3 linked regions of the Homo sapiens genome follow. The protein of the gene in region 1 purifies or fractionates together with the protein of each later gene. This does not show direct contact. Each region holds a gene or a part of one and is shown on either strand. Other genes may lie near its edges. The genes, in order: IDH2, ACO2 and SCARB1.

Evidence for each region.
Region 2: the proteins of IDH2 (region 1) and ACO2 purify together in Homo sapiens (affinity purification with mass spectrometry, with the first as the bait; one large-scale study listed by BioGRID). This does not show direct contact.
Region 3: the proteins of IDH2 (region 1) and SCARB1 fractionate together in Homo sapiens (co-fractionation; one large-scale study listed by BioGRID). This does not show direct contact.

The regions. Positions count from the first base shown.
Region 1 is NC_000015.10:90,088,942-90,092,588, forward strand, and holds part of IDH2 (isocitrate dehydrogenase [NADP], mitochondrial isoform 1 precursor), read right to left. Parts: intron 2,704-3,647; coding exon 2,612-2,703; intron 1,704-2,611; coding exon 1,538-1,703; intron 1-1,537. UniProt on the Homo sapiens protein: Plays a role in intermediary metabolism and energy production. It may tightly associate or interact with the pyruvate dehydrogenase complex.
Region 2 is NC_000022.11:41,472,109-41,475,755, forward strand, and holds part of ACO2 (aconitate hydratase, mitochondrial precursor), read left to right. Parts: intron 1-3,647. UniProt on the Homo sapiens protein: Catalyzes the isomerization of citrate to isocitrate via cis-aconitate.
Region 3 is NC_000012.12:124,776,727-124,780,373, forward strand, and holds the end of SCARB1 (scavenger receptor class B member 1), read right to left. Parts: intron 1,861-3,647; coding exon of another isoform or gene 1,741-1,860; 3' UTR 130-1,740; downstream 1-129. UniProt on the Homo sapiens protein: Receptor for different ligands such as phospholipids, cholesterol ester, lipoproteins, phosphatidylserine and apoptotic cells. Receptor for HDL, mediating selective uptake of cholesteryl ether and HDL-dependent cholesterol efflux.

The sequences.
Region 1 (3,647 bases):
TTTGCTCCTATTGCCCAGGCTGGAGTGCAATGGCGCGATCTCGGCTCACCACAACCTCTGCCTCCTGGGTTCAAGCGGTTCTCCTGCCTCAGCCTCCCGAGCAGCTGGAATTACAGGCATGTGACACCACACCAAGCTAATTTTGTATTTTTAGGAGAGATGGGGTTTCTCCATGTTGGTCAGGCTGGTCTCGACCTCCCAACCTCAGGTGATCCACCCGCCTCGGCTTCCCAAAGTGCTGGGATTACAGGTGTGAGCCACCATGCCCAGCAAGTCTGCCAGTTTTAATGGTGAGGCTTACAAAAGTGGCTCAACCAAAGCTGTAAAAAAAAATTACTGGAAAAATAACCAGCCTAAGTGTTGTCGTGAGGACGAAATGAGCTCGTGTGTAAAGGGCCTAGAACGGTGCCCGGTCCATGCTAAGTGCTCTGTTGGCCATTATGATTCCCACATCACACATGGAGGGAGTACAGTCCGGGGGAAGGACTTGTCTGACGAAGCCTGACAACACACTGCCCACTCCACATGCTCCGGTCCTGGCCCCAACGCCACCCCAGTTCCTAAGGCTGTGACCCTCTCCTGCCTTGTCCATAAATGGGGATACACAACTCCCAAGGTTCAGGTGAAATGAAGAGCTCAACACTCAAATGATCCCAGTGCTGTGGGTCAGGCATGACCTGCAGGACAGGGGCAGGCCTGGGGAATTTGCAGATGTATCTCGAGTACTTTCCGCCAGCTCCCTCCAACTGTGGAAAGTAGGAAGAGAGAGCTCAGAAAACTCCTCAACCATCCTTTCTCGAATTATCCAAACCTGGCCCCTCTGCACACACACTGCTGTGACTTCATGGAACCCTCGAGAGCGGCCCCAACAGCCAAGGACCAGAAGCCAGTCTAGGCCTGGTGGGGGCACCTCTCAGTGACCCTGCATGACCATGGGGACAGAGGCAGACCTGCAAGGCCAAGCCAGTGGCAGGAGGGCAACAGCAATGTTCCCCAGAGGCTGCTGAGGCTCTGAAGGACACAGGCCTTACACACAGCACTCCTCTGCACAATCTCTCTGCATACCTGCCTGCAAGACTGTCCACGCCAGAATGGACTACTGCCCAAAGAAGCCATCCTTACTGTGACCACATCAGCATTACCTTCCTCCTCCTCCTCCTCCTCAGCCCTGTCACCGATGACACCTACCACTGTCAGAGCCAGAGTGAAGCAGAAACACCACTGGCCTGGGAGATGGAAGACATGGATTCTGTTCTCAGCTCTGCTGTGCCCTAACCGTGGAACCTGAGGCCAGCCCCTTACCCACGCCTGCCCCAGCCTCATCAAAGGTGACCTCTGAGGCCCCACTGTCCACCAGGCACACACAGGGAGACTGGCCTCAGGTGCAGTTGGCCTCAGGAAAGCCCCAGCTCTGGAGCCTCCCAACCTCCCAGTCCCGAGATGAGTGACATGGCCAACTGCCCCACCCCAAGTCTGGAGAGGCCGGTGGGAGAAGCCTGTGACCCTCCCTGGCCCGCCCACCTCCACACCCTCGCACCTTCCACACGGGCCTCATCAGGGGTGATGGTGGCACACTTGACAGCCACACTGTACTTCTGGGTGGCCAGTGCAGAGTCAATGGTGACCTGGTCATCAGTCTGGTCACGGTTTGGGAGCCCGAGGTCAAAATACTTTAGCTGGATGTCCACGTGGGGCAGGATGAGCTGGGGACAGAGGGCCAGAGCAAGGCGTCACCCCAGTGACTCAGGGACATGACAACAAAGGGCAGGATAAGAAGTCTGCAGGCCATGGCAGGGGACAGTCAGTCAAAACAGGGATGAGTGAAGGCCAGTGGAGGGGCGCAGCAGAAAGCTGGAGTCAGCCATTTCTCAGTGGGGCCTGGCCAGAGCTGGCAGAGGCTGGGGCTTTGGAGAGAGGTTGGCAGGCCAGGCCGCAGTCTTTTGGAGGGTTCTTCCTCCACTGTGCCTGTGTGCCCCCCTCACATGGCCCATCAACTCAGCCAAACCCCAACCCCAAGTACATCTAGATTTCTCTATACAACTGGTTTCCTCTTCTCAAGTGCTTTGAGATCTTACAGTTGGAAGTGACAGTTCTCAACCTTTGTCCCATGAACGCACACACAGTGTGGGGCCTTCACAAGGACTACATGCTCTCCTGGACATACATAGACCACGGCAACTTTGGAGAAGCCAAGCGGCCACTCTGGGACCCCTTTGCCATGGTGGCTCGTCACAACTGCAGGCTGGGTCACTGCCCTACACACCAGCCCTGTTCCCTTTTCACTCCTTTTCAAGAAGTGAGGCAAAACGTAGGGGATCAAGATGGAAATGATACAGGATTAACCTTGAAGCTTCTCAAAGTTGACAGAACGTGTGGGATCTGGCACCATCACAACACGGACTGCTGGGGACAGGCCCCCGCCTGACGACTTCTGAACAATTAGTGGACCAGATGTGAAAGAAGGGTAGACAGAGGGAGAGAAACAGAGCTGCTGCTGCCTACCAGGACAACGGGGGGGTCCTAGGGACCTGCAGTCCAGAAGACCCTGTGGGACAGAACAATCCCTGGCCAGCCCACCTGGAGAGCCACCCACTTCAGGAGGGGGCACTACCTTCTCCTTGATGAACTGCCAGATAATACGGGTCATCTCATCACCATCCATCTCCACCACGGGCTTCGCCACCTTGATCCTTTTGTCGGCATCTAGAAGCAGGGACACACAGCGCATCATGCCCCTGGGGAGGCTGGAGGGGGGCCCTCTCCTCCCAGCCAGGCCCGCCCTTCACCAGGAGACAGTGGCAGAAAGCCAGGGCTCCAGCTGCCCGGTGTCCACTCCCCCGTCTGCAAATCAGCTCCCTCACTGCTTAGAGCAGGGGTCCCCAACTCCCAGGCCATGGACTAGTACCGTGGGCTCTGGAGAGAGGTCAGCAGACCAGGCCACAGCCTTTAGTGCAGGTCCACGGACTGTTGGGAACTGGGCCACACAGCAGGAGGAGAGCTGCAGGTGAGTGAGCACTACTACCACCTGAGCTCATGCCTGGGAACTGCGCACACGAGGGATCTAGGTTGCATACTCCTTATGAGAATCTAATGCCTGATGATCTGTCACTGTCTTCCAGCACCTCCAGATGGGACTGTCTAGTTGCAGGAAAGCAAGCTCAGGACCCCCCGATTGTACATTATGGTGAGCTATATAATTTTTTCATTATATATTACAATGTAATAATAATAGAAATAAAGTGCACAATAAATGTAATGCACTTGACTCATCCCAAAACCATCCCCGCTGCCCACCACCCTGCCACCCGTGGAAAAATTGTCTTCCATGAAACTGGCCCCTGGTGCCAAAAACTTTGGGAACTGCTGGTTTAGAGCACCTGGATCCATCCATCCTTACTTACTTCCTTTCCTTTCTTTCCTTCCTTTCCTTTCTTTCCTTCCTTCCTTCCTTTCGTTCCTTCCTCCCTTTCTCTCTCTCTTTCTTGGCAGGGTCCTGTTCCATTGGTCAGGCTGGAATGCACTGATGCCATCATAGCTTACTGCAGCATTGACTTCCTGGCTTCAAGTGATCCTCTGACCTCAGCCTCCCAAGTAGCTGGGACTACAGGCGCATGCCACCACACCCAGCTATTTTTAATTTTTTTTTT
Region 2 (3,647 bases), on another chromosome or scaffold:
CTTTGGGAGGCCAAGGCAGGTGGATCACAAGGTCAGGAGTTCGAGACCAGCCTGGCCAATATGGTGAAACCCCATCTCTACTAAAAACACAAAAATTAGCTGGGTGTGGTGGCAGGCGCCTGTAGTCCCAGCTACTCGGGAGGCTGAGGCAGAAGAATCCCTTGAACCCAGGAGGCGGAAGTTGCAGTAAGCCGAGATCGCGCCACTGCACTACAGCCTGGGTGACAGAGTGAGACTCCGTCTCAAAAAAAAAAAAAAAAAATTGCCTGGGGCTTTATCAGTAGTTGTTAGTAGGTATGGTTTGAATCTGGACATGTCTGATTCCGAAGCCTGAGGGCTTAGCAACTGGCACTATGCTGCTTCCCTTTGGCATCGAGCTCAGCCTGTGGATCAGGGCACCATAACCTCAGAACAGTGCCAAGTTGAATGTGTACTCTCGTTTGACAGTACCTGCTACCAGGTAGTAAGATTAGAAATAAGAAAATAGAACGTGGGTTTTGTTTTATTTTGTTTTGTTTTTTTAAAGAAATGGGGGTCTCGCTATGTTGCCCAGGCTAGTCTCAAATTCCTGGGCTCAAGCAATCCTGGCTTGGCTTCCCAAAGTGCTGAGATTACAAGCGTGAGCCACTGCAACCAGCTAAGGAGGTGAGATTTTTGAAAAACCACATTTATTCTCTGGTTTTTAGCATTTATTTTTGTGCATATGACTGAGTAGTACACAAGAGGGGCTGAGCAGTTGCAAGTATGTTTATTAGGTGTTTGGTTTTGCCTTGAGATAACTGGGGTGCTGAGGTTTCATGTGACCTTGGGGGAAGTCATGTAACCTCTTGCATATAAATTTGTGATGGCAGTTAACTACAAAAATATTTGGCAGAAACTCTGTGCCATGTTAAAATAAAATCTTGGTTTGAATTGTGAAACAGATGATTCTGGTTGTATGGTCACTGTGATAACCTTCGCAGATATCAGTTGTTATTAGAATTGAGTGAATGAATTGGTAAATAAGCTTCCATCTTAGATGTGGACAGAGGGAACAGACACACCATCCTGAGGATTAAGGGAGCACAGCATTACCTTTCAAACCAACTGCTTCACAGTGTTCTTTGAAAGCTTTGGCTGGGCTCGGTGGCTCACGCCTGTAATTCCAGCACATTGGGAGGCCAAGGCAGATGCATCACCTGAGATCAGAAATTCAAGACCAGCCTGGCCAACATGGTGAAACCCAATAGCTAATAAAAACACAAAATAAGCCGGGTGTGGTGGCACATGCCTGTAATCCCAGCCACTCGGGAGGCTGAGGCAGGAGAATCACTTGAACCCAGGAGGTGGAGGTTGCAGTGAACCGAGATCACGCCATTACACTCCAGCCTGGGCAACAAGAGTGAAACTCTGTCTCAAGAAAAAGAAAGAAAAAGCTTAATGTCTAGCACTGCCTAGCATTGTTCTAGACACTGGGGGTGCAGTAGTGAACAAGAATAGTGGGGCTTAAATTGTTGTCCTGGGGAAATTACGTAGAAAAATAAGAATATTGTATTACTGAGTGTTGTGGGGAAGATAAGGTAGAGAGAATAGGGGTGGGAACATGGCATTTTTAACTGGGGTGTTTGGGGAAGACCTCGTAGAAGAGGTGACATCTGAACTGGGACTTAAATGATACGAACGCAGCTGTTTACCATTTTTGGAGGAGACTTCAAATAGAAGGAGCATGTGCAGAGCACCCACCTAGGTATGAGCTGAGTGTGTTGAGGATAAGAGCTAAGGCCAGTGTTGCTACAGTGTCCTGAGGAGCGAAAGGTCTGAACAAGAGGCTGGGGCTAGGGTCAGGCAGGCTTCGGTAAGGAAATCCAAGTGTAGTGAAAACTGGGAGATTTTAAGCCAGGGAGTGATGTGATCTGATCATCTGGGCTGCTGCGTGCATGATGGACCATAGAGGGTCAAAAGGAGGAGGCAGGGAGACCAGTGGGGGACTGTTGGAGTCATCCCAGGAATGGCAGAGGAGTCTGGGACTAGGGATCTGGGGGGTGGAGATAATGAGATGTATTCAAAATTGGGATATATTTGGAGGCAGATGGGTTGGCGCATGGGAGGGATAGAGAATAAGGGTGACTCCTGGGTTTGGGGTCTTAGTAACTGAGGGATGGGTGAGCTTGATTGAATTCAGTGGTCGTGTGTTTGCAGTCATTTTTTTTTTTTTTTTTTTTTTGAGACAGGGTCTCGCTCTGTCACCCAGGCTGGGGTGCAGTGGCGCGATCTCGGCTCACTGCAAGCTCTGCTTCCTGGGTTCATGCCATTCTCCTGCCTCAGCCTCCCGAGTTGCTGGGACTACAGGCGCCTGCCACCACGTCTGGCTAATTTTTTGTGTGTTTTTAGTAGAGACGGGTTTCACGTGTTAGCCAGGATGGTCTCAATCTCCTGACCTCATGATCCGCCCGCCTCTGCCTCCCAAAGTGCTGGGATTACAGGCGTGAGCCACTGCGCCTAGCCTTTTTTTTTTTTTTTTTTTTTTTTGAGACGGAGTCTCACTCTGTCACCCAGGCTGGAGTGCAGTGGCGCGATCTTGGCTCACTGCAAGCTCCGCCTCCCAGGTTCACGCCATTCTCCTGCCTCAGCCTCCTGAGTAGCTGGAACTACAGGCGCCCGCTACCATGCCTGGCTAATTTTTTTTTGTATTTTTAGTAGAGACAGGGTTTCACTATTAGCCGGGATGGTCTCGATCTCCTGACCTCATGATCTGCCTGCCTCGGCCTCCCAAAGTGCTGGGATTACAGGCGTGAGCCACTGCACCCGGCCTGCACAGTACTTATAAAAATTAGCTAAGGGCAGAATCTCATTGATAAATTTTTGATTCTTTCATCAGTTCTCAAGTACTTTATTTCACAGGTGAGAAAGCCAGATGACGTCAAGTGTCTTACCCAGGGGCCCTCACTTGAGTCGAGTATGAGCATATTGTCTCATGTGGACTCTGTCCTATCTGGTCTTATTGTGAAACCTGGTGTGTGTCCAAGAGGGCCATCTTGTAAATGCTTACCTTTTTTATAAAAAAAAAAAAATTGTTTTTTCCTTTTTTTTTTTTTTTTTTTTTGAGATAGGGCCTCATTCTGTCAGCCAGGCTGGAGTGCAGTGGTGTAATTATAGCTCACTGCAGCCTTGACCTCCTGGGCTCAAGCAGTCCTCCCACCCCAGCCTCCCTAGTAGCTGGGACTAGAGGCATGTGGCACCATGCCCAACTAATTTTTTATTTTTTGTGGAGATGGGGATCTTGCCATGTCACCCAAGCTGGTCTTGAACTCCTGAGCTCCCAAAGTGCTGGGATTATAGGCGCGAGCCACTGTGCCTGGCTAGTGGGAAGAGAGTGTTGAGTCTTCCTTGGCTCCAGCTTTCTTTGACTTGCCTCGTTTTCCCAGCACCTGGTTTGGAAGGCAGTGGTGGGCTCTGGGCCTCTCAGCATGAAGGAAGGAAGGTATTGTAGAGAGACTTCTTGTAGCCTTTAAAAAGCAGCAAATGGGCCGGACGTGGTGGCTCACGCCTGTAATCCCAGCACTTTGGGAGGCTGAGGTGGGTGGATCACAAGCTCAGGAGTTCGAGACCAGCCTGGCCAATATGGTGAAACCCCATCTTTACTAAAAATACAAAAAAAAAATTAGCCA
Region 3 (3,647 bases), on another chromosome or scaffold:
TCTTGGCCTCCCACAGGGCTGGGATTACAGGCGTGTGCCACCACGCCCGGCCTTGATGGTATTTTGTTATGGCAGCCCCAGACCTAAAAAAATTTACCCTTGATGGTCACAAGAAATAAAAAAAAAAAGTTTGCTTCAACTTATATATTTATGTTGCAGGCAAGTATAGGAGTGATTAATAAAAGGCTTAAAAGCATCAAATATAAATATCATTTAGATAAAATTTTAGGAGGGAAGAAGAAAGGAAATACAAGTTTAAGGGGAAAAGGGCTAACATTTCTGACCATAAAAGAGCTTGTTCGTATATTCTTTGAAATGTTCGGCAGTGAATACCCTCTCCTCTCCTAGTTAGATCCCAGCGGGCACACTTAAATACTGATGAAATGGTCTCATATTCAAACATCAACGATGATGACAATCGGAGAAAATTCCATCCTTTGCAATGATCTACACTTAAGATGAGAACTTTTAGATGGCTCCAATCTGTTCTCTTACCCGCTTCTCTTCTTCACCATTTATGTAACGAGCAGAAAGCAAAGGCCTAGAACAACACGGGGCATGTCCTATGGGCACCAGGATTTGTAGATAAATGCACAGAAACACATCCAGGGGGCCCCATGCAAAAGTGGCAAAAGCGTCTGCACTGGGGGCTGTGGGATGGGACTCAGACCCTGCTGCTTCTAAACAAGGGCGTACTCATGCAGTATTTCTATGAAACTCAACATTGCACAAGGTTGAAATTTGAAAACAACAGGAAGGTAAGCCAGCAGCCCGGCCCTGGGAGAGACGCTCTTGGCAGCCACCAGAAAGGAGCTATTGACCAAGAGAAGAGGAGCCCGGAACTTCCCAGAGGCCCCCACCCCCACGACCTCAGCAAACAAGGCTGTCACAGAGGCAGGCATCCCATTTTTTTAAACGTTTATTACTTCAAGAGTGAATTATTTTTCAAAGATGATAAAACTCATTTCTATTCCAGTAGAAAAGGGTCACAGGTTTGCCCCAGGGTCCAGGAGCGCCCGGAAGGCAGGGCCCCCAGGCCTCTTCACCTCAGCCTGGGCACCTATAATCTGAGGGACCCTGTGAGGGGGTGGGGGCAGCTCGGGGGCACAGCCTGCGGCCACTTCGGCCAGAGAGTGGCCGGCTCAGTCCATAGGATGATGTCAGTTTAGGCTGGAGGAAAAGGGCGCCAGACAACCCGATGCAGTGCCTGTGAAGACTTCGGGGGGATCAAAGTCCGGCCGGGGTGGGCGGAGACCCTCGGGCAGCTGCACAGGGCATCTTGTGCTCACTCCATTGTTTTCCGAGGCCTGTGTAAAGGCGCTTTGCCTGGCCTGGCAGGTAGACCAAGGCCAAAGCTCGTGGCCAGGGCCTGGGCACTGAGTCCCCACTGAATTTGGCACAGGAAGGCGGCACTCCCAGCCTGGCCCGTCCTGCATGGGGAGCCACCACACCGGGACTGCAGTGTTTCACCTTGGAGGGGAGGAAGCCTGGGCCCAACGGCTGAACGGGACAGGCCAGGCTCACCCGAGGAAGGGGACGCAGGACCCACAGCCCCTGTGGTCAGGCCTGTGGGCCACGTGGAGAGAAGGTTCCAGAACAGTGCTTGTTGACGAGCCTCTCCCTACAAGTCCCTTCAGCAGCAGCTCCATCCCTGAGTGTCTGCACAAGCCTGCACGCATGTGTGTATGTGTGCCAGGGCGTGTGTGCAGGTGTGCAACAGGCACATGGCAGCTGGGAGGCTCAGGCTGTGGGGCTGGGGGGCTGTCCGCTGGGAGAGTCCGGGAGAAGCGGGGTGTAGGGGCTGGGGGGCCGGTCAGGCCCAGCGGCCAGGCCTGGCTGGCTCACGGTGTCCTCAGGACCCTGTGGAGAAAGGCAAAGCTGGGTGACCACCCACGCCCTGTCACCAAACCCCACCCTCATCCCCGCCCACCACAGCCCTGTACCCACATCCCCAGCAGAGACTCCACCCCCGCCACCAGGCTGTCAGAAGTGAGAAGAGACTGGAGTCACCTATAGACTCCTGGAATGACTCCAAGGGCCTCTTCATCTCACTCAACACCCGCCTGGCCTCCCCGACCTCCTTTAGAGATGGAGAAACTGAGGCCCAAAGAGACTTAATACAGTGAGGGGCAGAGCAAGGGGGGCGGCCTGTGTGCAGCACAGTCAACATGGAACAACCGGGGCAAGCTCTGTCCCTCAGGAGGAGAACGTATGTTTATGTGTTGATTTATTTTTTATTTTTTAGAGACGGTCTCTCTCTGTCGCCCAGGCTGGAGTACGGTGGTGCCATCATGGCTCACCACGGCCTTGAACTCCTGGGCTCAAGTGATCCTCCCACCTCGGCCTCCCAAGTGGCCGGGACAATGACACGTGCCACCACCACGCCCGGCTCATTTTTTAATTTTTTGTAGAGATCAGGTCTATGTTGCCCAGGCTGGTCTCGAACTCCTGGGCTCAGGCGATCCTCTCACCTCAGCCTCCCAAAGCGCTGGGATTCCAGGCGTGAGACACCATGCCTGGCCTGTGTTTTTAAACCCATGTCACAGGACGGTATTCAGCCTGAACAGTATTCCTGAACAGAAGACAGGGAGGAAAGCCAGCCACACAGCAATACACGCAGCAGGATGCAGCTTCGGTCACATTCAAAAAGTGACCTCATGCTCATGGCTGCGCACATGCAGATTCAGAAAAAACAAACCCACGTGCCAAGTTCCTGGCCATGGCTGCTCAGGGTATGCGGGGCGCAGGACGTGGGGAGGGGGACGAGGGCCACCCAGGGAACGAGTGAAACCAAGGGCATGAGATGCTGGCCATCTTCAACACTGACAGCTGTCAGCAATGGCTGCGTCTGGGTGAGGGGAACTGGATACTGTCATTTGTCTAGTTTGACAGTTGTAGAAAATTTCTCAACTTAAAAATTAAAAATACAGATAATGCTAATGATAAGAGTGTGGGGTGAGCCTTCGTCCCACTAAGCCCCCTGCCTCCCTTGCCCTGAGCAACAGAGGCCTCCCTGCCCCGGTGGCTGGGGCTGGAAACCGCTGCCCACCTCCGCCCACCTGTGCTTGCTTCACCACGGGGTAGGAAAATCAAACTCCTGCTCAGGGCAGAGAGCGGGCACAGGGGCCAGGGTCTGCTGCACTGAGCCAGGCGCGGGGGAGGTCAGCCCCGCCCCCACACCACCCACTGAGGCAGCACAGGACACCCACAGGTGGCTAGACCTTAGCCATGTGGGCCCAAAGAGCCGTGACTTGAGAAGGTCTCACTCAGAAGTAGAAAGGGGAAACCACCCCTAGGCTGTAAAAGAACCCCTTGTCTTTCCCAAGGAAGACACGTGGAACAAAACCCGCAGGTGCCAGAGGGTGAAGCAGGTTCCTCCTCCTTCCCCTCCTCCTCCTCCTCTTTGCCACTTGTTTGACTGAGGAACATGGACTTGGCGTGGAAGAAAGATCGGTGAGAAGCTAAGAAAGGTCCAGGAACATATCCCTGAAGGGCCACCTGGACAGTTGTCCAGGCTGTTCACTGCACAAAAGGACCCAGCTGAAGGGTTACAGACCAGTGGACACACAGTTTACCAAGCCCCCTGCCCTACAGCAGGCCTCATCTGCCCAGAGGGGCTGTCTTTTTCTTATTTATATAAAAATATC